Regions from separate parts of the Homo sapiens genome. Here all the other regions are reported to be linked to region 5. The links are microRNA targets in miRTarBase. Many come from high-throughput screens and were not tested one by one. Region 5 holds a microRNA gene; each other region holds the end of a gene's coding sequence. Distances are from middle to middle.
The links. The annotated mature microRNA hsa-miR-4689 reads UUGAGGAGACAUGGUGGGGGCC and lies in region 5 at 2,585-2,606, opposite strand. An mRNA with a match to its seed (bases 2 to 7 or 8) in the 3' UTR can be bound and repressed. Matches are read on the target gene's strand: a 7mer-m8 pairs with bases 2 to 8, a 7mer-A1 pairs with bases 2 to 7 and ends in A, and an 8mer does both.

Region 1: the mRNA of TCEANC is a reported target of hsa-miR-4689. Seed matches in the 3' UTR shown: 7mer-A1 at 2,692-2,698.
Region 2: miRTarBase lists CELSR2 as a target of hsa-miR-4689. Seed matches in the 3' UTR shown: 7mer-m8 at 1,229-1,235 and 7mer-m8 at 2,133-2,139.
Region 3: the mRNA of OXR1 is a reported target of hsa-miR-4689. Seed matches in the 3' UTR shown: 7mer-A1 at 2,842-2,848.
Region 4: the mRNA of KLHL11 is a reported target of hsa-miR-4689. Seed matches in the 3' UTR shown: 7mer-A1 at 3,002-3,008.
Region 6: the mRNA of WNT7B is a reported target of hsa-miR-4689. Seed matches in the 3' UTR shown: 7mer-m8 at 749-755.
Region 7: miRTarBase lists ZNF507 as a target of hsa-miR-4689. Seed matches in the 3' UTR shown: 7mer-A1 at 1,817-1,823.

What each region holds. Positions count from the first base shown.
Region 1 is chrX:13,662,784-13,666,783 of GRCh38, reverse strand. It overlaps TCEANC (transcription elongation factor A N-terminal and central domain containing), which reads right to left. Exons shown (of 5, transcript NM_001297563.2): 5 at 1,375-4,000. The coding sequence ends at 3,220. It overlaps LOC107985656 (a long non-coding RNA gene), which reads right to left and starts at 709. Exons shown (of 3, transcript XR_002958816.2): 1 at 314-709.
Region 2 is chr1:109,273,220-109,277,313 of GRCh38, forward strand. CELSR2 (cadherin EGF LAG seven-pass G-type receptor 2) reads left to right here. Exons shown (of 34, transcript NM_001408.3): 32 at 1-117; 33 at 217-451; 34 at 803-2,532. The coding sequence ends at 830. Among named protein-coding and RNA genes, the nearest start is that of PSRC1, 7.9 kb to the right of the region's middle. RefSeq lists an enhancer at 1,033-3,064 and cis regulatory regions at 1,745-1,764, 1,749.
Region 3 is chr8:106,750,523-106,754,616 of GRCh38, reverse strand. OXR1 (oxidation resistance 1) reads right to left here. Exons shown (of 17, transcript NM_001198533.2): 17 at 1,923-3,811. The coding sequence ends at 3,676. Among named protein-coding and RNA genes, the nearest start is that of ABRA, 18 kb to the left of the region's middle.
Region 4 is chr17:41,850,092-41,854,184 of GRCh38, reverse strand. KLHL11 (kelch like family member 11) reads left to right here. Exons shown (of 2, transcript NM_018143.3): 2 at 1-4,093. The coding sequence ends at 445. Among named protein-coding and RNA genes, the nearest start is that of KLHL11, 13 kb to the left of the region's middle.
Region 5 is chr1:5,860,127-5,864,220 of GRCh38, forward strand. It overlaps MIR4689 (microRNA 4689), which reads right to left and starts at 2,615; the gene lies at 2,546-2,615. NPHP4 (nephrocystin 4) reads right to left here. Exons shown (of 30, transcript NM_015102.5): 29 at 3,764-3,907; 30 at 2,685-3,279. The coding sequence ends at 3,139.
Region 6 is chr22:45,919,546-45,923,545 of GRCh38, reverse strand. It overlaps WNT7B (Wnt family member 7B), which reads left to right. Exons shown (of 4, transcript NM_058238.3): 4 at 211-3,180. The coding sequence ends at 690. Among named protein-coding and RNA genes, the nearest start is that of WNT7B, 56 kb to the left of the region's middle.
Region 7 is chr19:32,382,603-32,386,696 of GRCh38, reverse strand. ZNF507 (zinc finger protein 507) reads right to left here. Exons shown (of 7, transcript NM_001136156.2): 7 at 1-3,980. The coding sequence ends at 3,614. Among named protein-coding and RNA genes, the nearest start is that of DPY19L3-DT, 21 kb to the left of the region's middle.

The DNA.
Region 1 (4,000 bases), not on the chromosome of region 5:
GGCCATGGGTAGGGAACTTGGGATTTAGTGTATTTTATGAAATATCCATTTGCAAAGTTGTCAAGGACTTTGCTGACTATAAGGATTCGGGGAGCCCAGACTCTGTGTACTCTTGCTTGAAGCCAGTTATTTGACATTTGGATCACTGCCAAGGGTCACCTGTTGTCCCTGCATGCATCCTTGCTTCCTTCCCTTCTAATTCAATATAACAGCCAGAGTGATCCTTCCTAAAGGGTGTTAAATCTCATCACCACAAACTCCCCAGCTTCAGTGGCTTCCCATCATGTTTTAAGAAACGCCCCCAAATCCTTACCATGGCCGACCGACAAGAGCCCTCACGATGGCCTCTTTGACTGCATCTCTCATCCTTGTTCCCCTTGCTCACTGTGACTTAGCTGCCGTGGACTCTTGCTGGAACTTGCGTGTATCAGGCAGTCTCCTGTCTCAGGGTCTTCCATTTGCTGTTTCTGAAAAAGCGATTTTAAATTAAAGAGTCTTGGCCAGGCACGGTAACTCATGCCTATAATACCAGCACTTTGGGAGGCCGAACACTTTGGGAGGATCGCTTGAGCCCAGGAGTTTGAAACCAGCCTGGCAACATGAAGAAACCCTGTCTCTACAAAAAATACAAAAATTAGCTGGGCATGGTGGCACGTGCCTGCAGTCCCAGCTACTCAAGGGAGTGGGGATGCTGAGGTTGGAGGATTGCTTGAGCCCGGGAGGTTGAGGCTGCAGTGAGCTGAGATGGCGCCACTGCACTCCAGCCTTGATGACAGAGTGAGAACCTGTCTAAAAAAAAAAAAAAAAAAAAAAAAAAAAAAAAAAAAAAAAAAATCTTTACCCTGCAGTCAATTTTAAAGAAAGTCCTTTCCTTTTAGGGGAAAGGACATAGGATCTGAAAGAATTACCTATAGGCAGAAAATGTAATGCTGTCTCATTAACCAAAAGAAAAACACACAGATTACTATTTTCCTATCTCAAGTTGCAAAACTCACGAATAAAGATGAAATGAAATGAGGAAGACCACGCAGATTGGTTTTTTTGTTTGTTTGCTTGAGGTGGAGTTTCTCTCGTTGCCCAGGCTGGAATGCAATGGCGTGATCTTGGCTCACCGCAACCTCTGCCTTCTGGGTTCAAGTGATTCTCCGGCCTCAGCCTCCCGAGTAGCTGGGATTACAGGCACCCGCCATCATGCACAGCTAATTTTTGTATTTTTAGTAGAGACGGGGTTTCACCATATTGGCCAGGCTGGTCTTGAACTCCTGACCTCAGGCAATCCGCCCGCCTCGGCCTCCCAAAATGCTGGGATTACAAGCATGAGCCACCGCACCCGGCCAGACCATGAAGGTTTTTATATTTTGGAGAGTAAGGAAATTTCCATTTTAATTACTTTTATTTGTCTGAACATTTAGTTTGCCAAATTCCAATATAAATAAAAACTACACACATACACACAAACCCCCAAAGCAAAACATAAACACCGACTTGAACTAATCAAATTTGGTTTTTATGTGCTGTGCTCTTTCGTAACCACTGAATAGTTTTTCAGATTATTCCAAGTCATATGAAACCACACTTTGTGAAACTTCAAGTTTTAGATGACCTTGCAAGTTAAGGACTAAACATGTTGCATCACAAAAAGCAGCCCTGGGAAGACACGGAGAGCAAGTATATCAAAATAGATTTTACACTTGATGGCATTGAGCCGACTCTTCCAAATTATTTGAAAATACGAACATATTTTACTTTTATGCATGTTTTGGAGAATTCTGTCAGGCAGGTAAAGTGTACACACAGTTAGGCCTTCAGAGCTCCAACAAAGGAAGAGAGTTAGGAGAAAAGAACTGGTGAGAAAGTGAAATGGTAGGTTTGTAGAGACCGCCAAAGTAAACTTTTTAAAACTATAAAACGGTGAACATTCCATGAGTTTTTTAAGGAAAAAAAATCAGCCATAATCACATAGAAGGCGTGTTGTAGTCAAACAATTATATAAACTGGTTAAACACTGTTTGCAAAGGCCTCAAAGAGGTAATTTTATCTTCAATTCATTTATTAGATAAACGTCTGTTACTACATTCAAAGGCTAAAGTGATGGGCTTCCTCTGACAGACTAATGACCATTAATGTCCATCTCAAGGACACTTGTCCTTGAGAACATGAAGACTCCTGACATCAGAAACTAAACATCCTAGAGTTTACATACCCCCGAAAAACCTGTTCACAGGGGGAAAAAACAAAAACAAAAACAAAAACAAAAAACAACTACGAAACTCCTTCAACTAAGCAAGAGGGCTCCAAACAAAATTCTAACTGCGGGATGAGTTCCAGGGTGACTTTTGTGGTTGAAGGGAGACCTATAAATGAGAAAAGAGAGGGGAAAAGAATGAAGATCTAGTCACCCAATGTTGGAGTTTAAACACATTCTTCATTTTGTCCCCGACCTCCAGGAATACATTTCTCAGAAGTCGATATTGAGCCAGTCTCAGTGAGTCAGGAGGGAGAAAATCTGGGATCTGTCAGAATTGGTACTATTTATGGTTGTGTCACTTGGACATGTCACCACACCTCTGTGGACCTGTTTCCTCATTCGTGAAGTGCCTGGAATAACATTCTTGTCTTAGAGCTGTAAAAAGGATCAAATGAGAGCCTATTTCTGAGTAGTTCTCAACTCTGACTGCATCTTAAAATAACTTGAGGAATGAAAAAAGAAATGTTGATGCCTGGGTCCCATCTCATAGGTTCCAACTGAATTGTTCTAGGGTGGGGTCTCAGCACCAGTGGGTTTTCAAAGCTTCCCAGATGATTTTAATATGCAGCCACTGCTGAGAGCCACAGGCCTATTGCTAAAGTAGCACTTCTCAAACTATCCTATCCTGGAAGATTACCTGGGGATCCTGTCAAAATGCAGATTCGGATTCAATGGTGTGAGGCCTGGGAATGCATTTCCCACAGTCTCCCAGTTTATGCTGGGCTGTTCTCACCCACACTCTGTCTACAGTAAGGTACTAAATGGCCACAAGGCACAATATAAATAGTCATCCACTCCCTCTCCCCAAACTGTAACTTTTAGGGATGGTGGTGGCAGCTTCAGCTAACGACTTTCTTTCCTCCTTTTTCTGTTTTAGAGAGTAGTGTGTATAAGATTTTTAAAAGCACAAAAGGGTTGTACAAATAAAAGGTATCACTCCGGTTATCTGTTAAGAGAACACTGATTTACAGTTACCAGCACACCCACTTGCTATGGTACCACTGCTCCCCACATTCGTTACAAATTACGTAAGTCATCATTTGTTCATCTGGGTTTGAATTCCGCACCCAGCTGGGAAGGAAAAGTGTTCCTCTGTCAATTACAGTGACTTTGCAATTGTATTTCTCACAGCGTCTGCATTTTATTTTATTTGTCTGTGTGCCATCAATTACTTGGGGAAGGTAATGTTCCTGGATACAAGATTCCGTGTAGGAGGCTCTCAACTGCTTCAGTTCCTTATTTGCCATCTCCATGACAGTCATTTCAGCAAATTCTCGTGGAGACGTGGTCCCAGAGAGCAAGTTTTGTTGTAAATGAGAATTTCTGGGGTTCTTCAAATTGGCAACTTTGCTTCTGATGCAAGTTTTATATTTTTTGATGTTCTTTGAATAAAGGGTAAAAACATGCTCTTCAATTTCTCTTGCAAAGTTTTGCCACAAATCAGCTTTGGGTTGATCTGTGGAAGAACTAGTTAAAGCTGCGTAAAGAAGCTCTATGCATTTAGTTCTCATGGGTGTTGTGGGATCCAGCAACTCACTCGATCTCTTGCCAGTGGATTCAGGGTCACCATCCCCAAAATGCTCTTCCTTAGGTTTCAATTGAATGGCTCTATTTTCAGGCACAATCATTTCACTGAGTTTTGCAACGTCTTGGGAAGACAGAGAATTCGAGCTGCAGATGCCCAGTGTCTCATTCTGACTTGGGTCATGAGAAGGTCCTGAATTTTCTTCTTTATTACCCCTCACAGGAAAT
Region 2 (4,094 bases), 100 Mb from region 5:
CAAAAGAGAGTAGTGGCAACGGGGCCCCTGAGGAGCGGCTGCGGGAGAATGGAGATGCCCTGTCTCGAGAGGGGTCCCTAGGCCCCCTTCCAGGCTCTTCTGCCCAGCCTCACAAAGGTGAGTGGGGCACCCCCAGCTGCCGAGCTCCCCTAGTCAGCAGCCTCATACCTCACATTCTCCTGTGGCCGCACCTCACAGCCCCGCCCCGGCCCACAGGCATCCTTAAGAAGAAGTGTCTGCCCACCATCAGCGAGAAGAGCAGCCTCCTGCGGCTCCCCCTGGAGCAATGCACAGGGTCTTCCCGGGGCTCCTCCGCTAGTGAGGGCAGCCGGGGAGGCCCCCCTCCCCGCCCACCGCCCCGGCAGAGCCTCCAGGAGCAGCTGAACGGGGTCATGCCCATCGCCATGAGCATCAAGGCAGGCACGGTGGATGAGGACTCGTCAGGCTCCGAGTGAGTGTGGCCGGGTGGGCGGGACGGGGTGCAGCCCCTCGGAGGCCTCACCTGGGCCCAGAGCTGCCTCCGGGCCTCCCCAGGTGACTCTGGATGGCATTTGGAGGACAAATGGGCAGAACTGGCCCAGCTCCCTTACTATGCCGTGCCCACAAACCATGGTGCCTTGCGGGGAGGGCCACCCCTCCTAGGCTCTACGCGGCGCAGCCCAGCCTAGGGCAGAGTGCGGGAGGATGGGGAGCTGGGGGTGCTTTCCTGTTTCCTTCGTCTGGTGAAAGCTTTCACTCTCTCCTCTGTTTCAACTAACCCTCTGTCTGCCTTTTCTGCCACTTTCCTTTCCTGCCTCTCCAGATTTCTCTTCTTTAACTTCCTGCATTAACCCTGGGCCGTGGTTCCTACGCCCGAGGCTCCCTTCCCTTCCCCAGCCGCACTCATGCCCTGCTCCTGTCTTGTGCTTTATCCTGCCCCGCTCCCCATCGCCTGCCCGCAGCAGCGACGAAACGTCCATCTGAGGAGCCTGGGCCTTGCCGGGAGGGGTACTCACCCCACCTAAGGCCATCTAGTGCCAACTCCCCCCCCACCATTCCCCTCACTGCACTTTGGACCCCTGGGGCCAACATCTCCAAGACAAAGTTTTTCAGAAAAGAGGAAAAAAAGAATTTAAAAAAGGATCTCCACTCTTCATGACTTCAGGGATTCATTTTTTTTATACGCTGGAAATTGACTCCCCTTTCCCTTCCCAAAGAGGATAGGACCTCCCAGGATGCTTCCCAGCCTCTCCTCAGTTTCCCATCTGCTGTGCCTCTGGGAGGAGAGGGACTCCTGGGGGGCCTGCCCCTCATACGCCATCACCAAAAGGAAAGGACAAAGCCACACGCAGCCAGGGCTTCACACCCTTCAGGCTGCACCCGGGCAGGCCTCAGAACGGTGAGGGGCCAGGGCAAAGGGTGTGCCTCGTCCTGCCCGCACTGCCTCTCCCAGGAACTGGAAAAGCCCTGTCCGGTGAGGGGGCAGAAGGACTCAGCGCCCCTGGACCCCCAAATGCTGCATGAACACATTTTCAGGGGAGCCTGTGCCCCCAGGCGGGGGTCGGGCAGCCCCAGCCCCTCTCCTTTTCCTGGACTCTGGCCGTGCGCGGCAGCCCAGGTGTTTGCTCAGTTGCTGACCCAAAAGTGCTTCATTTTTCGTGCCCGCCCCGCGCCCCGGGCAGGCCAGTCATGTGTTAAGTTGCGCTTCTTTGCTGTGATGTGGGTGGGGGAGGAAGAGTAAACACAGTGCTGGCTCGGCTGCCCTGAGGGTGCTCAATCAAGCACAGGTTTCAAGTCTGGGTTCTGGTGTCCACTCACCCACCCCACCCCCCAAAATCAGACAAATGCTACTTTGTCTAACCTGCTGTGGCCTCTGAGACATGTTCTATTTTTAACCCCTTCTTGGAATTGGCTCTCTTCTTCAAAGGACCAGGTCCTGTTCCTCTTTCTCCCCGACTCCACCCCAGCTCCCTGTGAAGAGAGAGTTAATATATTTGTTTTATTTATTTGCTTTTTGTGTTGGGATGGGTTCGTGTCCAGTCCCGGGGGTCTGATATGGCCATCACAGGCTGGGTGTTCCCAGCAGCCCTGGCTTGGGGGCTTGACGCCCTTCCCCTTGCCCCAGGCCATCATCTCCCCACCTCTCCTCCCCTCTCCTCAGTTTTGCCGACTGCTTTTCATCTGAGTCACCATTTACTCCAAGCATGTATTCCAGACTTGTCACTGACTTTCCTTCTGGAGCAGGTGGCTAGAAAAAGAGGCTGTGGGCAGGAAAGAAAGGCTCCTGTTTCTCATTTGTGAGGCCAGCCTCTGGCTTTTCTGCCGTGGATTCTCCCCCGTCTTCTCCCCTCAGCAATTCCTGCAAAGGGTTAAAAATTTAACTGGTTTTTACTACTGATGACTTGATTTAAAAAAAATACAAAGATGCTGGATGCTAACTTGGTACTAACCATCAGATTGTACAGTTTGGTTGTTGCTGTAAATAGGGTAGCGTTTTGTTGTTGTTGTTTTTTCATGCCCCATACTACTGAATAAACTAGTTCTGTGCGGGTACAGCACTGTCACTGTCCGCTTCTGTGTGGTACCCTGTCCTCCCACAGGGAGGAAGGTCTGGTCTCTGGAAAACAGAAGAGCCGGCAGGGCCCAGAAGGCCCCACCGGGAGGTCGGGAGACTCAGACACCACTGGCTGATAAGCCTGTCCCTCTGCCCATGTCCATGACACTGCTCCCAAATAGCTGGATCAGCACAGAGCCCATTTCCTGGCATTTCCAAGGAAGACATGGTGGGCGGGCAGGAAGGTGTCCTTTTCACCAGGACGGAAAGGACTTCTACGGTGGGAGAGGCTGCACGGGGCAGGCAGCCTTCCAGCCCAGCCCCTCAGGGCTGAGTCCTAGACAGGGATGAGTTTTCTGGGGCAGAATTCAAGAAGCAGGGAGGGCTGCATTGAGAGGCTGGTTGGAATTGAATGGTGGTCAGTGACTCAGTGCCTCCTAACTATACTGCTCAGGGTTGTTTTTTGTTTTTTTTTTCCCATTGGAAAATGAAGCAGCTACTCATACTGAAGCCAAGTGTGTGCTTTGCAACATTACTTCTCAGCCTAAGTTTTGTTTTTGTGTATATATATGATATATATTTAAAAGTATATATGCTTTTTAAATTTAATAGAGGCGGGGTCTCACTATGTTGATCAGGCTGGTCTTGAATTCCTAGGCTCAAGTGATCCTCCCGCCTTGGCCTCCCAAACTGGGGTCACAGATATGAGCTACCGCATCCGGCCTAGTTCCAAGTTTTGTGTTTGTCGAAGTTCCATTCAATAAACTAGAAAGGCAGCTGGGTGCGGTGGCTCATGCCTGTAATCCCAGCACTTTGGGAGGCCGAGGTGGACAGATCACCTGAGATCAGGAGTTTGAGACTAGCCTGGGCAACATGGTGAAACTCTGTCTCTACTAAAAATACAAAAAAATTAGCTGGGTGCGGTGGTACATGCCTGTAATCGCAGCTACTCCAGGGGCTGAGACAGGAGAATCACTTGAACCTGGGAGGTGGAGATTGCAGTGAGCTGAGATCGTGCCACTGCACTCCAGCCTGGGTGACAGAGCGAGGCTCCATCTCAAAACAAACAAAAAAACTAGAAAGGGAGTTAACCTGGGGACAATATAGGGTGATGATTAAGAACACAAACCCTAGCTGGGCAGTGGTTCACGCCTGTAATCCCAATACTTTGGGAGGCCAAGGCATGTGGATCACTTGAGGCCAGGAGTTAAGAGACCAGCCTGGCCAACATGGTGAAACCCATATCTACAAAAAATACAAAAAAGCCAGCTGTGGTGGTGCATGCCTGTAGTCCCAGCTACTAGGGAGGCTGAGGTGGGAGGATGGCTCAAACCCAGGAAGTAGAGGCTGCAGTGAGCCAAGATCGCACCACTGCACTCCAGCCTGGGTAATAGAGCCAGACCTTGTCTCAAAAAAAAAAAAAAAAGGACACAAACCCTAGAACCAGACTGAATGACTTAATCTTTCTGAGCCTTAAGTTTCTCTGCCCACAAAATGAGGATGATGATAAAAGCATCCACCTAATTGAGCTTTTATGAGGATTAAGTGAGTTAACACATGT
Region 3 (4,094 bases), not on the chromosome of region 5:
ACAACAAACCCCTGTGACACGTGTCTACCTATGAAACCAACCTTCACATGTACCCTCAAACCAAAAATAAAAGTTGGAGAAAACAACAGCTTTCACTCTTATTGGACACCTTCTTACTTTCAATGATGTCTTTTGATGAAGTGCTTAAAGTTTTAATGTAGCATAATTTATTTTTTTCCTTTATATTTAGTGCTTTTTGTGTCCCATTAAAGAAATATATGCTTACCCTAAGGTCATGAAGATATTCTCCTATATAAACTAATGTCTTTATTGTTTTGCTTTTCACAATTATTTTTCAATCTCTAATTGTTTGTGGTGTGAGATAAGACTTTTTGTTCCATATAGATATCCAATTAATCTACCATCTTTTTTTTTTTTTTTTTGAGACGGAGTCTTGCTCAGTCGCCCAGGCTGGAGTGCAGTGGCACGATCTCTGCTCACTGCAAGCTCCACCTCCCAGGTTCATGCCATTCTCCTGCCTCAGCCTCTCGAGTAGCTGGGACTACAGGCGTTCGCCACCACACCCGGTTAGTTTTTTGTATTTTTAGTACAGACGGGGTTTCACCGTGTTACCCAGGATGGTCTCGATCTCCTGACCTCGTGATCCACCTGTCCTGGCCTCCCAAAGTGCTGGGATTACAGGCATGAGCCACCACACCCGGCCTAATCCACCATCTTTTATTGAACAGACTGTCTTCTTTACTGAGCAGACAGCAGTATCACCTTCTTCAGAAATCAGTTTCTTTCTGAACTTTTGACCAATATATTGTCTTTCTTACTCAGCTTTCTAATAAATCATGATTATCTGATACTGAAGACCAGACACTCAATTCTTCCATGATGGCTTAGCTATTCTTTGATTTTACATTTCCATATAAACTCTACAATCAGTTTAATTTCCAAAAAATAAGCCTGGGTGAGATTTTCACTGTCAATATAATTTAAGAGAACTGATATCTTTTAATCAATATTGTCTGCCAGTAATGAATATGGTATATCCTTCCTATTTTGGTCTTCACTTTGTTATATATCTGATATTTTCAATGGTATTACAAATGGTAATACATAAATTTCATATTTGTTTGCATATAAAAAGTGAAAGAGTTTTATTGTTTTTTGTTGACTTTTAAAGTTCATCTTTCAGAATAGTATATAAAATGTCCTACTCCCAAAAAGTTTATTCTCCTGTTTCTCACATCATACTCTCATAAAGTCCACGACTAACTTCATTTTGCCACCTGCTTTTTTTTGTTTTTCCTCTATGTACCTTGCCCATCTTGATAAATAATACAACTAAACTCTTAAATCAAAATCCTGGGAGCTATCTTTAACTTTTTCTGACATCCAATCAATAATCAACTCCTGTTCATCCTAACTCATAAATCCTTTCCAAATCCATGCTTCCTTATTACCATTACCACTGTTCTTATTCGGGCCTAATCATTTTTTTTCTGGACTTTATAAAAGGCTTGTTTTCCCCTTGTCTCTAGTTGTTCCTTCTACTCATCTATTTTTCACAGATATTTTCCTAAAGTATACACCTGATCATGTCATTCCTCCTCTCAAATGTTAACTGAACCTACGGGATACAAAATATCAAAATTTCTTGGCATTGCACACACATAACTGTTTATGATAAGGGGCTTAGCTTGTTATGCATTCTCCACCCAAAATGAAAACAATGTACTTTAAAAATATCAAATAACTTACACTTTCCCATGTGTCAAGTGCCTTCTCCCATCTCCATTTTAAAAAATGTAATGCTCCCTCTAATTGAATGCATTCTCCTATCACTATTACTCCTAACACCATGACCACCACCACCACAATGTAAGCTATTAGAAGCATTAAAAAAAAAAAGATAGTAGTAGGCTTAATCAAAGACTTGTTAAGAAAATGAGTATTCAATAAATCCAAACTCATTTGTATTTCTGTATTTGATTTTATTTGGTATATGCCACTATGACCTTATTTTAGTAGAAATCCATTACAGGATTTTTAAATTATCATTAGTCAACTCCACAAAGACAATAATACTGCTGTGGAAGACCGAAGGGGAAAAAAACTGATATATTTATTTACAATTCCCTATATTGTAAACATTTAATCTATATATTGTTACTAACTTATAATGAGACAAGGAAATGATGCCCTGTATTTCTATTCATATTCAGCAATAGCATATTATAATAGAACATCAGATTTTCTTTTCCATTAGCATTATGCTTTCTTTAAATAATTATCTAAACTTTCAAAAGAACTAAATATGTAAGTGCTATACAACTAAATCTACTTAAGCCAAATATTTGGCTTATAATTTCATTTTTAGAATAACTTAAAGTGCTATAAGCAACCTGGCAATCAACACTTTCTGTAAGAACAAAACTACACCTTTAAACATTAATTTACAAGATATACAATGTTTATCTGGAATAGCTGAAATTTCAGCACAAAGTCACTGTCACATGTATAACAGCAGGATTCTTTTTTGCATAACATGAAGCTTTAAAATCAACTGATGAATTATTGCCACAATGGCTATTATTGGTTTCCTACAAAAGAGGATAAGAACTACTAGTGTATTCTATCTTTTCATTTTTTTTTTGAGGTCACTTGACAGTAAGTTTGCATATTCAACAAGTCTACTGAGTTACAATATTGTCTACTATAATCATTGCCCTTTATAAGAGCAAATGCTAATGGTAATTAATAACATATACCACTCAAAGAAAATCACAATTTTTTTTTTCCTTTTGAACAAGAGTAACCTATATTTTGGGAGTTGGTGTGCAATAAGGCTAAAACAACCAAATTATAAAACAGTATACCTGACACAGTATGTTGAGGAAATATGCATCTGTTTCATAGTTTTTGTACTTATGTTAATGCCTTACTAAGCTACACATATGTAAATAGTATGTTTTCTTGCTAATATATTAAATCCAATAGAATCATTAAGTTCTCATTCTCCTTTGTGACTTGTAACTTTATCAGATAATTTAATGATGAAAGCATATGCCCAAACCTGCAGATCATATGTACTGTCATCTATTACAACCAGAATTCTCCTCACATTTCATTTTTCTTAAAAGGAAATTGAGAATACCTGCAACATCGTTAAAGAGAATGTTGTAGTGTGAATAAAAACTAGAACTCAGTGGTCTATGAAGTATGTATTATTTTGGCAAGTGATTTTTTCCTTCCTAAGAATAAGATGAACATGTCCAAATGTTACCTGTGCCAACTTCACAGATACAGAAGTATCCAGTCTTCATTTCCTCAATGCCCCAATTAGACTGTTCTAGTAAACGAATCAATATAGTTAAAAAAAAAAAAATCAATACAGGTTCAACAAAAGAGCACCATCCTATTAGGGAACTGAGTAACATGTGAAAATGAAGTTGTCATTATAATCAAAATGTTGCCCAAATTCTAACAAACCCAAGCTGTTATACTAGTACATGGACGCAGTCCCTAGTGTTAACCTAAAGAACTCTGGGACAAGAACATGATTTGAAAAATAAACTCCAAAATTATAACTGTAATAAATGGTGATACAGACTAATTTTAAAGCACAAGTGACATGTTACACTGTATTGCTTCTTGAACTTTCCAAACAATGCTTGTCCATGTCAGGTTTGGGCCATTCTCCTGCTAAGACAGAGAGCATTTTATTTATTCAAAAGCCCAGATTTCAATATCTTGGATAAAGAAATCTTCCTTCTTAGAAAGTGTACGATTCCCAAACGTTTTACAAGAATGGCTTCTTCCATGGTAGAGATCTCCATCAAGCCAAAGCGCAAATTCTCCTCTGCAATACATAAATAATAATCTGTTAATATTTATGCCTTAAGTTATAAAACAATTTAAATGAGACTTTGAATACCTAACAACCCTAAAGTTATTAATTTTCTCAAATCCTTCCCTACTCCTTTCCACACTGACACAATTTTGTTTTACTCCTATTCCATTAAAAAATTATTTATGGGCCGGGTGTGGTGGCTCATGCCTGTAATCCCAGCACTTTGGGAGGCCGAGGCCAGCGGATCACCTGAGGTCGGGAGTTCAAGACCAGCCTGACCAACATGGAGAAA
Region 4 (4,093 bases), not on the chromosome of region 5:
AGCATCATGTTGTCCCAAGAGTTATTGTTTAGAAAACGAAGAGGCAGTAAGAAAAATTGCCAGCCAAGTGTCTGATGAGATCCTTGAAAGCTTGCCTCCAGAAGTCCTAAGCATCGAAGGAGCAGCCATTTGCTATTACAAAGATGATGTCTTCATTATAGGAGGCTGGAAAAACAGTGATGATATTGATAAACAGTATCGGAAAGAAGCCTACCGATATTGTGCGGAGAGGAAGAGGTGGATGCTTCTTCCTCCTATGCCACAACCTCGTTGTAGAGCCACTGCTTGTCACGTGAGGATCCCATACCGGTACTTGCATGGCACACAGAGATACCCTATGCCTCAAAACCTGATGTGGCAGAAGGACCGCATCAGACAGATGCAAGAGATACATCGTCACGCCCTGAACATGAGGCGAGTGCCAAGCTCTCAGATTGAATGCTAGGTTCTCTCAAGCGTGCCGATTAAAACTGTTACACCCGTTTCGTGAAGCTGAAGATACCCAGGCTGTTATTTAAAAAAGTATGTCGATAACTTATTTTCTACATGAACTGATTATTACCCCATATAAAGGAAATAGAGTTAAAAACTAAAGAATGGGAGACTCAGTTCAATACATGGTCATTTTGTTAGCTTGCAATTTTTGTCTTTGGTTTGTTTGTTTGTGCTAGCTAAATAAGATCTTATTAAGGACAAGTGGAAAAATCAGGTGTAGTTGCTTAGCTGTTTTCCTGCCAACGAGTTATGACTCCTTTGTCTTGAGGACTTACGTTTTGAACATGCTTTAAGCACCAATTTTATTTGCACATTTACTTTGATATTCTTTTTCATTTTTTATTAAATGATTGGTTTTGGCAAGATCTGACTTCTGCATTGAGCCCTCATCTGCAGGAGGCATGTGCAATAGTGAGACTGAAATTTGAATGAAAACACTCAATATTTCAGCAAGATAATTTGAGAATGTTTGCATTGATATTTTCTTATGTTTATCTAGAAATGCCAGTTTCCTTCCTAGAAGATGTGACTGATGAGAAATTTTTTACTGGCTCATGCATTTTTTGAATATTTTTCATTAGCAGCTGTTTATAGACTTTAAGCCTTCAATCTGAGGTGACGGTAGTTGGCAAAAGTATAGATCTTTAGCTAATTGACTAAATACAGAGCAAGTTACATGTGTGAACTTTGTTTCTCTAAGAAGAAAAGTATTAGTGTAGACTGGGAAATCAAAGGCATTTAAAATTTTTTCAACATTTTTTTCAGGAGTTGCAGGATTATTTGAGGATATGTTAATGAGTGTAAATAATGCCTATGACAATCGACACTCAATGCCTTCCATTTTAATTTTTGCTCTAATGCATATTATATAGAATCTTCATTATTCCTTTTCTCTTTTTTTTTTTTTTTTTGCTCATGTTGCCCAGGCTGGAGTGCAGTGGTGCAATCTCGGCTCACTGCAACCTCTGCCTGCCAGGTTCGAGTGATTCTCTTGCCTCAGCATCCCGAGTAGCTGGGATTACAGGTACCCACCATCACGCCTGGCTAATTTTTGTGCTTTTAGTAGAGACAGGGTTTCACCATGTTGACCAGGCTGGTCTTGAACTCCTGACCTCAGGTGATACGCCCGCCTCAGCCTCCCAAAGTGCTGGGATTACAGGCATGAGCCACCGTGCCCAGTCCATTATTCTTTTCTACAAGAAACTGTTTTTTTCCAAAATGGGAAGGAAGTCACAATTTAGAGAAATGTTGCTAAAGAGAAGCCTTATTATTTCTGATTGTTATATTTTATCCAGTTGCCCCACACTTTCAAACTTTGCCTGAGCCTAGGATACCAAATTTGGGTACATAATTTTGGCTTTTAAAGGTTTATGGGCTGGGCACGGTGGCTCATGACTGTAATCCCAACACTTTGGAGGAGGCTGAGGTGGGCAGATTTTGAGCCCAAGAGTTCAAGACCAGCCTGGGAAACATAGCAAGATCCTGTCTCTACAAAAAGTAGAAAAATTAGCTGAGTGTGGTAGCTGGCACGTGCCTGTAGTCCTTCCTACTTGAAGCCAAGGTGGGAGGATCACCAGAGCCTGGGAAGGTTGAGGCTGAAATGAGCTGTGATCATGCCACTCTACCTTGGGTGACAGAGAGACGGTGTCTCAAATAAAAATTAAAAAGATCACTGAAGCTATCTTTTATTTAGTTTTATACGTTATTCGAATTATCTTATGTCTCCTGAGCTTTATAAAAGTTAGCACTCAAATTGACTTTTTTTTTTTTTTGGGCCAGGGGATGGGGTCCCACTTTGTCACCCAGGTTGGAGTACAGTGGTATGATCTCGGCTCACTACAACCTCCACCTCCTGGATGCAAGCCATCCTGCCACCTCAGCATACGGAGTAGCTGGGACTATGGGCACGCGCCACCACGCCCAGCTAATTTTTTTTTTGTATTTTTGGTAGAGATGGGGTTTCTCCATGTTGCCGAGGCTGGTCTCCAACTCCTGGGCTCAGGAGATCCACCCGTATCAGCCTCCCAGGGTGCTAGGATTAGGTGTGAGCCACCACGCCCGGCCTCAAAATAACTTTTTTTTTTTTTTTTGAAACAGTCACGCTTTGTCGCCCTGGCTGGAGTGCAGTTGCGCAGTCTCAGCTCACTGCAACCTCCACCTCCCGGGTTCATGTGATTCTCCTGCCTCAGCCTGCTGAGTAGCTGGGATTGCAGGTGTGTACCACCACGCCCGGCTAATTTTTGTATTTTTAATAGAGATGGGGTTTCACCATGTTGGTTAGGCTGGTCTCGAACTCCTGACCTCGTGATCCGCCCACCTCAGCCTCTCAAAGCGCTGGGATTACAGGCATGAGCCACCATGCCCAGCCCTCAAATTTACTCTTAATGCTCAGTTAATATAAAGGATTCCTAACAGTTTACAATGTGGTTTTCTTGTTTTTGTTGTTGTTTTGGTTTTTTAAGATGTGAGGTCTCACCTTATTGGCCAGGCTGGTCTCAAGCTCCTTTCCTCAAGCAATCCTCCCACCTTGGCCTCCCAAAGAGCCACCTGTCCAATGATTTATCCTGTTTCTTAAGAACTGTCTTTACCTTCTTAGACATTTTGTCATACCATTCTAGAAGTCAAATTCCAAGTGCAGTGATTTTTTTTTTCCCTAGTCCATTATAGTTAATCTTCTTGTTAGTGATCAAATACCAAAAGAGAAAAGCACAACCAGAAATTTTGGCTATTTGCTGCAAGTTGTAGGTCTTGGGCTCTATACTAAGAACTTGAAATTTTTAAATTAGTATCCCTGCCTAGGTGAAAAGTTTTTAATAAATGTGTTGAAAATCAACTTTAAATCCATTTAATTTAGACTGGAGTGGGCGTGAGAAACTGCAAGTCTATTTCTACATATAAGGATATATTATTATATTGTCCCATCCCACCACTACCTTTTTCTCAATTTCTATTTCTTTGTAGTTATTTTAGTAAAAGCCATTTGGATTCTGAGAAGCACTAATTCTTAGCTGTGATAGGTCTATGCAAGTAAGACAGAATCATTAAATGAAGCTCACTAAATGAAGTTCTCATTTCTCTCCAACAGACTGTGCTAGCAAACTTCGTTTTCTTGATTGTATTTAAATAATTTAGTATCTCACTACGATAATAGTTTTTAACTGGAAGGGTGTGATGTGTTTTTTGTTTTTTGTTCTCAGAGTTGTCTTCTGAGATAATTATTACCAAGTCATTTGTGGGGTTGTGTTTTTTTCACATCATGTGACAGAAATTATAACTCATAAGATTTAGGCATAATCTGGTTTTAAAACCTTGATTGAAACTGTTGTTTTTTAACTTAGCAGGCAGCCTAGGCCATGGCTGAAAAGAAGGGGTAAGTCCTTCATTGCATGATGATGTGTGCAGGTTTTCCTGATTTTCTAATTTTTATTTTTGAATTCACATGTGTAATTTCACATCAATAACTTGTGTTTCTGAAATATCCTAACTAACTTGTTAATAAGGAAAGAAACCAGATTTGCTTAAATCTGTTCAAGGCTGACATTCTGAAATTCTAAACTGGAAATAACTTCCCAGAGTATTTGGAAAGGTTCTAAGTACA
Region 5 (4,094 bases):
TGAGCAGTTGAGACCCTGCCTCCCCTGCAGTACAATGCATCTGACCGAGACTTTCTGCAAGGGAAGGATAAAATGGTCCCGGTCACCCTCCCCAGCAAGACTGTAGGAACAAATGGGACATAATAGCTTCATAATCACATCCATCAACATTACTTTAAAGGCACCTATTAGGAGAAAGTCTGAGCCTCCTGCCCGCACGACTCAGCACCCATCACAGTGGCTCATTCCCCAGACCCTTAATGAGAGTGCAGCGGCGCTGCGGAAGCAGCAGGCTAACGGGGCAGGCCTTGCCCTCGCGTGGTACGACGGGGAACAGCAGGAGCAGGGCGAGAGCCAGACGGAGTGGACAGGGATGGGTGGGCTGCCCAGGTGGTGCCTGCAGTGACAAGACCCAGTAAATCACAGCTGCACCTTCTCCACACAGAGCTGCCAGGGAAGTGACCAGGCACCTGGGTTACTCGGAGGCTCTGGCCAGGTGACGCTGTGACCAGAGGCCTGGACATCCGACTCGAAGAGACGGCTCCGTATCATGACTGCACACGTTTGAGCCAGCATAGGGTGTGGACAAGCTGGGATCCCTGGCTGTTCAGCGTTTGCCCTGAGGCAGGCGTGCAAATTCAGAGGCCGCCTTCAAGAAAAAGCAACATGGAGAATCCCAACCCAGATGACAACAGGGACAAGCCAGAGAGATATCATTACTCCGCACAGGTACATGTTGAAAAGACACAGAAACACCTTAAGTGACTCCTTCCCCCCTGGAGTCCAGCCTCCACCTCACTCCTTCAGTCTTTCCAAGCCAGCTCTGGCGTGGACAGAGGCCAACCTAGGCAACCATAGGAAACGAACACAAGGATGCAAGCAGAGAAACGGGTCCAGCTTCCGGACAGTAACTTTTCAGAAGGAGCTATGTGCCTCACCCCAGCTTCCAGCTGACTGGAATGGAGCGGTGATGGCAGCGGCTGCAGCAGCCATCTCAGGATACAAGGTGGAAGCAACGTGGTAAGAACAGCACAATGGTAAGACAGAAAAAGACGGGAGCACAGTGATGGTGGAGCTCCACGCCAGCCCTACACCAGCTACCTGGATTTTTAAATGTGAGAGAAATTAATGGCCATCTTGTTTAAGACAGTGTTATTTTGGATTTTCAATCACTCACAGCTGAACAAAATATAGCCTCTTCTGTCCATTCTCCCATCATCTCCCTCCCAACTACTGCAGCAGCCTCTCATTTGCCTACATCTGGGCCCACTCCAATTAATTCTCCACATTACTGCCCCCATCTTACCCAAATACACCCATCCTTGCATAAAACCTTTCAAAGGCTTCCTGACGCTTTTTGATACAGATAAAAGTCCTCCTCATGGCCTGAAAGGACCTTGTTTTGCATCAGGGATGGCTTCTCAGCCTGGTGGCCTTCCTTAGGACTCTGGGCACACCATGCCGCTGGCCCCGGGCCTCAGCTCCCATGGCCCTCTGCCCAGGTCTCCCCTCCCCTATTCACCCACTCAGATCGACTCGTGGGAAGCCCCCGCCAACCTCCATCCTCCTGTGGGAGGCTGCACCTCTTCCTTCCCACTCCGGGCTGGCAACAGCTGAGTGTCCCAGGTACCATGGGCCTTCCCTATGTTCCTGAGCCTCTGAGAGGGTGGAGACCACAGCAGGCATGTGGTACCAGATGAAGGAGTGAGGGAGTAAACCAACGACCGCCATGGCCTCCAATGGATGTCTCCAGCAGCCCCTAGAAGGCAGACACTCTAAAGCAGGGAGAGTGCAGCTTTACAAACGCTGAAGGGACACGTCCACAGGAGGTTTTCTAGCCCATGGATGGATCTCCTTTGCTGCTGTGGTTTCCGCTTCTGCATGGACATCCTGCAAGCACAGGCCAGGCACTTTCTTGCAGTCTGTAGGCCCACCCAGCCTGCAGGGCCCACGAGGACTCTCCACCCCACAGGGCAGGGCTGGATGGAACCCACATGTGGCTTCCTGGACTCCCCGGAGCCTCTTCCATGAGGACTGAAGGACTGGACATCTTACAATTGTTCCCTTGCCTAGGACTCAGCCTTGGGGCCTGTGAGAAAATCCAGCTCCCTCAAAAGAAAACTGTGTCAGCCAGTCCTGTCCAGCTGGAGAGTCCGTGGGAAGGGAGGGCAGACTGTCTCGTGAGAAGCAGCACCAGGATACAAACACACTGCCCGAGGAGGCATCTCCACTCTCTCTCTGCCCCTGGCACAGACGCAGGAAAAAGCCACAGCTCTGACCTTCAGGGTCCAACTACAGTGCCAGTGAAATTTCTCTCTGAAGGATGGGGACTGCGTCAGGATCAGAGCATGCAGACGCAGCAGAGACCACCCACCGAGACTGATCTCTGCAAACGAGGACCGCACCTCACTGCAAGGACCAATGGGGCCACGTGCTCTCTGCAACCACCGCTGGGTGCAGCCCACCCTCCGCTCAGGGGCACAGGACCCTCCGCCCCTCGCACTTCTACCCGACTGCTGCCGTCTCAGAGCCGGGGTCTCAGCCCCCACCCAGGGCAGGCTTGAGCGGCCTCTCCATGAGGACACATGGCATGGGCTGCCTGACCGGCCCCCACCATGTCTCCTCAAGGAGAAACCGGGCTTGTGCTGTAGACAGGAAGCCTCTGACACTGCGCCAGCAGACACTCAAGAAAACTGCCAAGGGAAGACGTGTAAAAGTTTAGTATTTTGTTCAACAATTTAAAAAACAGATATAATACCAGCATAAAATATTGCATAGCAAATAATAGATTATGTTTGTACAAAATCCAGTAAGAAAAACATAATTTTCTCATTTAGGATGATTCATAAAATACATTTTGAGCAACAGCGATAACGAGGGTCCCACATGCGTAGATGGCAGCACCAGAGCCAGACCCACCACCACGGAGTTCGCGCTCACGGAACCCAGGCCTGCTGGGTGTCAGCAGCAGCTAAGCTGGATGCAGGTACTACAAAATGACCAGCGCTCGGTCTCTGCTTCCTCAGCCAAGTGCACAGGTCAGCCAGGTGGGCACTGAAGTGAAAGGCTGCAGAGAGGCGGGGAGGACAGCCTGCAGGGCAGGAGGGGCACAGACAGGCCCCAGCTGGGTGCCGCAGGAAGGACGTCACCCTCAAGCCCTCACTGGTAGATGACCTTCACGCAAAATGCCTCTTCGTTTTTGTCCTCATGGTCATTGATGTAGATCAGGATCTCCTCCTCACCCACTCTCTGACTAGGCGCAAACTGCAAGCCGATGGTGTAGGTCTCTCCACCCCCGACCTGGAAATAAGCATCCAAATCCCAGCATCCACCCCCGGGCTGTCCCACGCTCTCACCAGCAACCTCTCTGCATGGTCGTGTTTATTTCCAAGGGGAGCTGACAAGGCAGGGGAGCCCTGCGGGTGCATCCAAGGCCTGCCTTTGACTTCAGCGCCCGGTACAAGGATGGGAACCAGTGCTCAGCCAGTGTGACGCGTTACTTGGACTCGAAGGCACACTTATTTCCGAGACTGAGCTGTCTAACATTACCATGAAAAGCCCTGGGCACAACACCCTTTCCCACACTCAGGAGAAACTTTGCTAAATCTCCAGCTACTAAAGATACAACGGGCCCACCCAACTATGGGATGGTACCTGTCACCGCCCTGGGGCTTTTGGAAGACTGCTGGTGATTTGAGGAACTCGCTCCTAAATGCAGGCTAACTGCCCTCCATTCAGGTCCCCGGGTCTTCCCCTAGGAGTCCCAGGCACAGCCCCACCACACCTGGAAGGAGTCCTCTCTGAACCGCAGCAGCTCCGGGTGGTCGCTGTGCAGGTGGAATGTCCTCCGGGAGGGGTAGGGGTTGGTGTAGGTGATCCTCTTGTTGACACCCTTCCCTTCGCCCGCAGCCAACATGATCTCAAAGGCCTGTGGAGGGAGGGGACAGGGAGACGCTGCGGCCACTCACGGGAACAGCCACTGGCCCTTCCTCCAAGTATTCCCTGAGTCTCCTGTGCACCGTGCACGGGGACCCCCACAGAGATAAGACAGACGCTCTCTGGAGCTTCCATCCGGGAGAGACACAGCACAGGAGCAAACACTCATGCACCCGGCC
Region 6 (4,000 bases), not on the chromosome of region 5:
ACAACCTCCTATGCAGTGGAGACCTATTGTTAGCAGCCCCATGTAATAGGTGAGGAGGCTGAGGGTCAGAGAGGGAGAGACACTCACCTGTGGTCACACAGCCCAAGGGGAGGAGCGGGCTCCAGGGCTGGGCTAGAGGCAGGGGTAGGGGAACCTAGAGGGGCCCAGCTTGGGCCATGCCGTGCCGAGCAGCTTCCCTGTCACCCGCAGGTTCTAGAGGACCGGATGCAGCTGGAGTGCAAGTGCCACGGCGTGTCTGGCTCCTGCACCACCAAAACCTGCTGGACCACGCTGCCCAAGTTCCGAGAGGTGGGCCACCTGCTGAAGGAGAAGTACAACGCGGCCGTGCAGGTGGAGGTGGTGCGGGCCAGCCGTCTGCGGCAGCCCACCTTCCTGCGCATCAAACAGCTGCGCAGCTATCAGAAGCCCATGGAGACAGACCTGGTGTACATTGAGAAGTCGCCCAACTACTGCGAGGAGGACGCGGCCACGGGCAGCGTGGGCACGCAGGGCCGTCTCTGCAACCGCACGTCGCCCGGCGCGGACGGCTGTGACACCATGTGCTGCGGCCGAGGCTACAACACCCACCAGTACACCAAGGTGTGGCAGTGCAACTGCAAATTCCACTGGTGCTGCTTCGTCAAGTGCAACACCTGCAGCGAGCGCACCGAGGTCTTCACCTGCAAGTGAGGCCAGGCCCGGAGGCGGCCGCGGGCACCCTGGAACCCGGCGGCATTTTGCACATCCACTCCTCACCTTCCCTGCCTTGGTGCTGCCAGCAGCAGACATAGACGGGTGCAGAAGCGGGGAGCTCCAGGTGCAGGAGGGCACCGGCCGGGGCCCACGCCCTCTGCCCGCCTCCCTGGGGCTCCTTCCTGCCACCTCCTCCCATCACCTCCTGCGGCAGAACAGCACCCGTGACCCACCCAGAGAGCAAGGCCAGGGGTCTTGGTGCTCCCCGACGGGGCCCGGCAAGTTCTCTTTCTTCTCTCTGGGAAAATGAACGTCCAGGACACACCTGTATCCCAGAGAGCAAAGTGATGAGGAGACTGAGCGTCCCCAGCCCCACCTGGCGGCATGGACACAGAAAAGCTACGCCGGCTGGCCTCTCCAGACCAGTTCCCAGGCTGGGTCTGCCGCTGGGCCCTGGGGCGGTGGGGACAGATGTTGACACAAATTATTTATGTTTTCTTAGTATCAGAAGAGGATTCTCGGCACTAACACATAGCCAGTCCTAACTCCGTACTCTGTGTCAGCCCATCCCCTAGACACCCTCTGTTTCCTTTCCCGGCCCCACCTGGCCGGCCCTCTGCCCCTGCAGAGCTGAGGCAGCCTGGGGTTGATGGGGACCACGCGGTGCCTGCAGGTCCTAGAAGTGAGCTGGGCAGGGGCTCTTCAGACCACACAGCCCTGACCGGGCCTTGGAGGAGAGCCATGGACAGGCTCCTCCATGCCGTCTTTCCTTCTTTTGAAAATCCTATCAATGGCTGGGCGCGGTGGCTCACACCTGTAATCCCAGCACTTTGGGAGACCGAGGCAGGTGGATCACCTGAGGTCAGGAGTTCGAGACCAGCCTGGCCAACGTGGTGAAACCCTGTCTCTACTAAAAATACAAAAATTAGCTGGGCGTGGTGGCGTGCACCTGTAATCCCAGCTACTCAGGAGGCTGAGACAGGACACTTGCTTGAACCCGGGAGGTGGAGGTTGCAATGAGCCAAGATTGTGCCACTGTATTCCAACTTGGGTGACAGAGCACGACTCTGTCTCAAAAAAAGAAAAGAAAATAATATCAAGCAAATCAAAATATCACCCACGTCAGGTTCCAGGAGTCCTTCGTTCCCTCCCTCATCCTGTCACCCTCCCGGCCTGGCACCTCCAGTTTACAGAGACCCCCTTCCCCCTGGAGCCAGCCTGACCCCTGGGACAGTGCTGCCGCGGGGGTCAGGCAGGTGGTGAGTGGTCAGGGATGTTTGTCCCACTTGACAGATGGGAACTCTGAGGCCCAGAGTGGCACAAGGACCTACCAGAGACCCTGCAGCTGTGACTGGAGGCTTCCACCTTTCTCCTGCCCAGCCTGGGGCTCTGGACCTGGGAGAACACATCAGGATGCCCGGGGTGGCAGTAGGTAGCTCCCATGCCTTGAGGCACTTGGCTGCTCCCTCCACCCCCTGACAGCCTCATTGGGGCCTGCACTCCCCTCGGTGCCTTTGAGGCTTCGCCTAGCCCTGTCCTGGTCCTTTTACCCTGACCCCAGTGCTGAGAAAATCTGGATCCAGAGCTGGACATGTCCTTTCTGGATGCTCCCACCCCTGTCTCTGAGGAGCATGAGTGACAGAGGGAGGAACTTGTCCGAGGCCAGAGAGGATGGTCTGCAGCTGGCTCCTGGTGCACCCCCACTGCCCACGGCCTGGCCCCCATTTAGGGTGTGTTCTCTTGGAAGCCCGTAGGAATGTGTTCTTGAGCAGCCGACAAGCCAAGGGCCTGGGCTCAGCCTGGGGCAAGTGGGTCCCTCCTGGGCTCTGGCCCTGTGGTCCAGCCCATGTGCCTCTAACCATGCCTGGACGCTCTGAGTCTCCGGGCCACCGTGAATGCCCCACCCTCAGCCTGGCCCCATCCCCTTACCTTCCCCAAGTCCCAGAACACACCTGAGTCCATAGGCCCGGCAGCCTCTGCAAGGAACCTGGTTAACTTATGTTGTTATATAGCGTCGAAATGTCTATAGTGTCTTTAAATTATTGTGACCTACACTGGGTACCGGAGAGGGGGATGGCTGCGGCCCCCATCCCTCATCCCCCATCCCATCCCATCCCTCATCTCATCCCTCATCCCATCCCCCATCCCATCCCTGACCCCATCCCCCATCCCATCCCTCATCCCTATTCCCCATACCCACCCCCCATCCCATCCCCCATCTCCCGAACCAGGCTCCTCCTGCTTCAACAGACCCTTGGGGCCCCTGATGCCACCGAGACACTCGCACTGTCCCTTGGCTGCCGGGCACCCCACTGAGCCCCTGCCCACCCCAAAGTCTGCCAGCAACAGGCCCTTTGCCTGGGTGAGACGGGGGTCAGGGTGGCCCAGATGGGGGTGATGGCGACCAAGGTGCTGCGTCCCCACCCTTCTGACGGCAGCCTCCCCTGGAGGGGAGTGCTCGGCCCAATAAAAGCTGGAATCGGAAAAGTGAGTGTGTGTGGAATCCCCATGCGATGTACCTGCAGCTGCGGCCCCACCGGTGGGGACACATGCTCTGCCCACCCAGGACGAGCCCCCGAGGCCTTCATGTGCCCCCAGCTGTCTGGCTTCCTCCTGCCCCTCTGTGGGCCGTCCCTCCCATCCTCACACCAGACACCCTTGCCCAGAGCCCACCCCTGAGATCAAGTCATGCCTACCTGCCTCCAGGCACCTTTGGGCTGTCCCCACCCAGCCAGGGGAGCTGGGGCACTGGACACAGACCCTGAGGCCTTGCTGGACAGCACCAGGCTCAGGCTGCGGGGACAGGAGGGCCATGGGCCTGGCACCTGGTTACTGGGGGCTGGGCCAGAGCTGCTGTAAGAAGAAGGGACAGCAGGCCCCACTGGGCCCTGTGCCTCTGCTTCCCTCTGACCAGGGTGGGGTCTGGCTTTCAGGGTCCCTGTAGGTCCATCCAGCTGGGTCTGGTGGATTTTGGCTCCACAGCCCTGGGGACTGCCTTGCTCTCACCAGGCCTGGGAAGGTGGCATGAGGCCCCCAGAAGCTCAACAGCCTGCAGCTGGCCACAGGCTCCGCTGCTCCTCCCCAGAGCCTGGCCATGGCAGGGCCTCCCAGCCTGCATCCTGCGAGAGCCGTGCACACGGCGATGCACAGCACTTCCCCGAGGGCCAGAGGCATGTGGCAGGGCCGGTTTGGCCACTGCCCGCTGTCCCAGCAGCCTGGCATCGGGTGGAACTGCTGATCAAACAGACCCCATCCTTGCTGTGCCCAGCCCGGGCACCCACGGAACTGGCCCCAGACCCAGATCCCA
Region 7 (4,094 bases), not on the chromosome of region 5:
AACTGCTCTCCCATGAACACAGTCCTAGAGTTTCCGCTTTAAGGCATGCAGCTTGATGTGCAGGATAATTTTACAAAATGCAAATCATCCTATTTTAATAAGATACAGTGTCAGAATTAACTGTAGTCTTTACATGTCAGTATTCCAGAAATTTTTATACTTTGGCTATAGAAGCAATGCCATAGTGTTACACAATACTTATTTCTTAAAAAAATACATGTATTCATGTTCATGAATATCAAACGCAAATTTCTATTAAATATATTTTATCGAATATTACTTAGAGCACCTTGCTGTACAATTTAAAAAGATTAAATAAGTGTCTATGAAAACTAAAAACACAATAAGTCTCAACAGAGAAGCCTGCTTGTCTTTGTCAAGCCAATTACAGCACGGGAAGGTGCAATGTAAACATGGATGCCCACCATTTACTTTGTGAGAAAAAAAACAGAAAATTATGAAGCCACCAGCAGCCACCTTCAATAGGAAGAAAGATCCAGAACAAAGGCTTCGGTCGGTGTCACAACATTGCACTATCTGGCCAAAGAACTTGGACTACCGATCAAATGGAATATTAGCATGATACTGTTGAACACTGGGACACCCGCCATATTCTGGATGATTAGAGAAAGGGAGAAAATGATAGAGCCCTGAAAAGTATTCTTTATAATGATCAGAATGCATCATCTTCCCCCCTCCCCACCTTTGCCATATGTAGTTTCTTTTCAAAGCTATTTTCACTATCACGTCTTAGTATTTTTTAAGTGTTCGGAGCAGAAAACAAATACTATGAGCTCTGTCTAATAAGAAGTCAATACCAATAAATAACATGTTATTCTATGAAGGAATTCCTACTGAATTTTTTTTTTGGGGGGGGAGGTAAACAGAGGACCTCATCTGTCACCCCGGTTGGAGTGCAATGGTGCCATCACGGCTCACTGCAAGCCTCTATCTCCCAGGCTCAAGTGATCCTCCCACCTTAACCTCCCAAGTAGCTGGTGCTACAGGCACGTGCCAACTATGCCTGGCTAATTTTTAATTTCTTGTAGAGACAGGGTCTCCCCGTGTTGCCCAGGCTGGTCTTAAACTTCTGGACTCAAGCAGTCCTCCAGCCTTGGCCTTCTAAAGTATTGGGATTACAGGTGTGAGCCACTATGCCCAGGCTACTGATTATTTTAATAGCTATCTCTTCTACAGTTAGAATTGCATAATCTTCATTATTACTTTTAGAAAACTCAATTGTTCTTGGTAGACACATTGTTAACTTAAGGCTTGCCACAAAATGATAATGGGAAGGGAAAGAACCTCCTTGATATATGCTTCCTCCTATCGGCCAGGAGAAAGCTTTTAAGGACAATTCTAAGGCCAGAATCAGATGAAACTTTAAAGGCTTTGAACTTCTGGGTTAGTTTTTTCCCCATGAGGTGGGGAAATTTTAAATCCATGATTCCAGGTGGAAAATTTAAGTAACAATCAATGGAATTAGTTTAAAGAAATAAAGGTAATTTAAAAATTCACATCATTGAAATTTTGGGGATGCTTTTCATTATTATTTTCTAAATATGATATAAAACTAAAGCCAAGGAAATTTTCTAAGACAAAATCCTTCTAAGGTTGTTGATTTTCAGAACAACAGATTTTTATAAAGAAATACTGAGTCATTGTACCAGCAATGAAAAAACTGACTTACAATATGAGTGGCAACAGTATGGGTAATAATAATGAAATCATTTTAAATGTTCTATTTGAATTTGAAATTAAAATGTTTCAATTCCGAAAAAAGGAGAAAATGAATATAAGTCCACATACAGTGGATTTGAGGAATATAGTATATATAAATCCATTTCATATTTTTAAAAACCACGTATCAGAAATGGATTAACTTTCATAAATAAATTAAAGCTACCTAAATAAAAAAGCTGCAAAGTTACAATCATTTATGTTTGTTTAAATATCACCAAAATGAGATTAGAAAGAAAGAAAAAAAAATCAGAAAATGTTGCAAGATGCCTGGCCCCACTTAAATAATTCCTAATAATAATTTTATAAATATTAATCCAATCATACCTGGACTTTAGGAACAGAATACTTCTTAAAACGTGCCTACAGCGTATCCCATTCGAAAACCTTTACAGTGTTCCAAGTTGATCGGTCACAGCCTCATCCAGGTGTTAGAAATCAATATTCAGATATTCGGAAATAGCACCGTGAGGATGGTGCACAGAAGAGCGCACCGACCTTTTCACTTGTAGGCAGAATTTACTTAAACAAAACAATGCATAAATGAGTAATCAGAACTACAAAAACAAAAACACCCTGTTTTCTTCACTCCTTGAAATAATTAAAATACAAAATGTGTAATTAATAAGATTACATCTATTTGATGGTGAGTTTTAATGCTAAAGCACTTTGTGTTGGTTTTCCATATGTCCTATCGCACTCTAACAAAATAGAATTTCCAGATAGGAAGAATCCTATAGACTTGCCAAATGCTATTTGTTATTAAAATTTTTACAAACAACCTGAATTTCTGCTATATTTTAGTCACATTTGGTTATATTCCTCTTCTGCTAAATATAACTAAATTAATATACCCCAGGAAAGAAAAGCTCAACACAGCAGTACTCATTTTCAGGAGCTTTTAAATTTCACCCCTCATCCCCTAAGGGATTTTTGGAAATAGTTCAAACTATTTCCAATGCCGGATGATCAAATGTAAATTTTCATACATTGTTTCTTTCACACACTTTCAGATAACAAGTGTGGTTTCATTTAGCAGAGTATTAGAAGGTCTACGTACTATGGAGAAAGTATGCCAAGTTCTGACAGACACTGAAAAGAACCTCTGAGAACACGGAAGACGATTTAGCATTACTACGAATTGAGATCTGGTTTGAGTCTGGTGAGAATTCACCTGTTTCGTCCTCTGCTCACAAGAAATTCATCGTAAATTTAAGACAATACTTCTTGAATGCCTATTTACAATCTAGCTTTGAATTTAGAGATCTTTCCTTTCTTTTTTAAGGAGTAAAGGAACATGTCCTAGATTGAGTATGATTAATTTCTATCAATTTAGGTATTTCAGTAGATCATTTCAAAGCCCTCTAATTATGTTTCCTTGTTGACTCTGTTGGTGACACTGAAAAAACCCCCTCCCAGAACTGCCTCCCATTTCTCACTGGAGGCCTCACAGTCTGCATTTGACAAGTGAGAAGAAAACTAAGCTCTGCTTAAGACTGTGACCCTTTTATGACTTTTAGAATAGTTCCTGAAAAGCCCTTTCTTAACTCTTGCTGGCATTTCTACACTCTAATAAGCTTTTATTAATAAATACACTCGACACTAAGAAGGGGTGACAGAGGGTTAATACAGGATTACACCTCTACTTCCTCTTTGACCCACTCCCCCTCACTCAAAATATTTAAATATCATTACTGCTTGTCCATTTGGAATTCCTTTTATTACAAGTTTGGTTCCAAAGTCACATCTGTCATTTCCTCAAAAATCACATCAACGACTTCTTCTGTGGCAGGAAGTTGTCTGACAGCGTAAAGGTGAAACTGTGGTGAAGGAATCCTCTTCTACTGCTTTCCTGCTCGAGTCATTATTCCACCTAATTTGTGTTTAGAGCTGTATTGTGGTCCTTATTCAGGATGATGTTTACAATTTCACCCTCGTGCTCTTTCATATGATCCAAGAGGTTTTCTTTGCTGGTTGATTCAAAACCACAAATACAACAGCAGAAGAGTAAAACGCAGTACTCCATGCTAGGAGGGGCCAGACTGGAGATTTTTTCTAAACTATATGAGGTATTACTTGTAGGGCTCAGTTTCTCATTCTCGTTGGTACCCAGAACTTCACTGGGAGTCTGGGACATCAGTTCTGAAGATGACACTGCATTTTCTGAACTTCCAGTGACGGGATCTGCACTCTCTTCACTGCTCTTTAATTGAGTCTTTCCAGGGGATTTCCCCAGAACTCTTAAAAACAAAACAAACACAGCACACCGTGAGGAGGCTACAATGTAGGACTAGTAGATTTAATCCTGGCTTTAATTTACATATAGCAATAAAGGGAGGGGGTAGGATGAAATA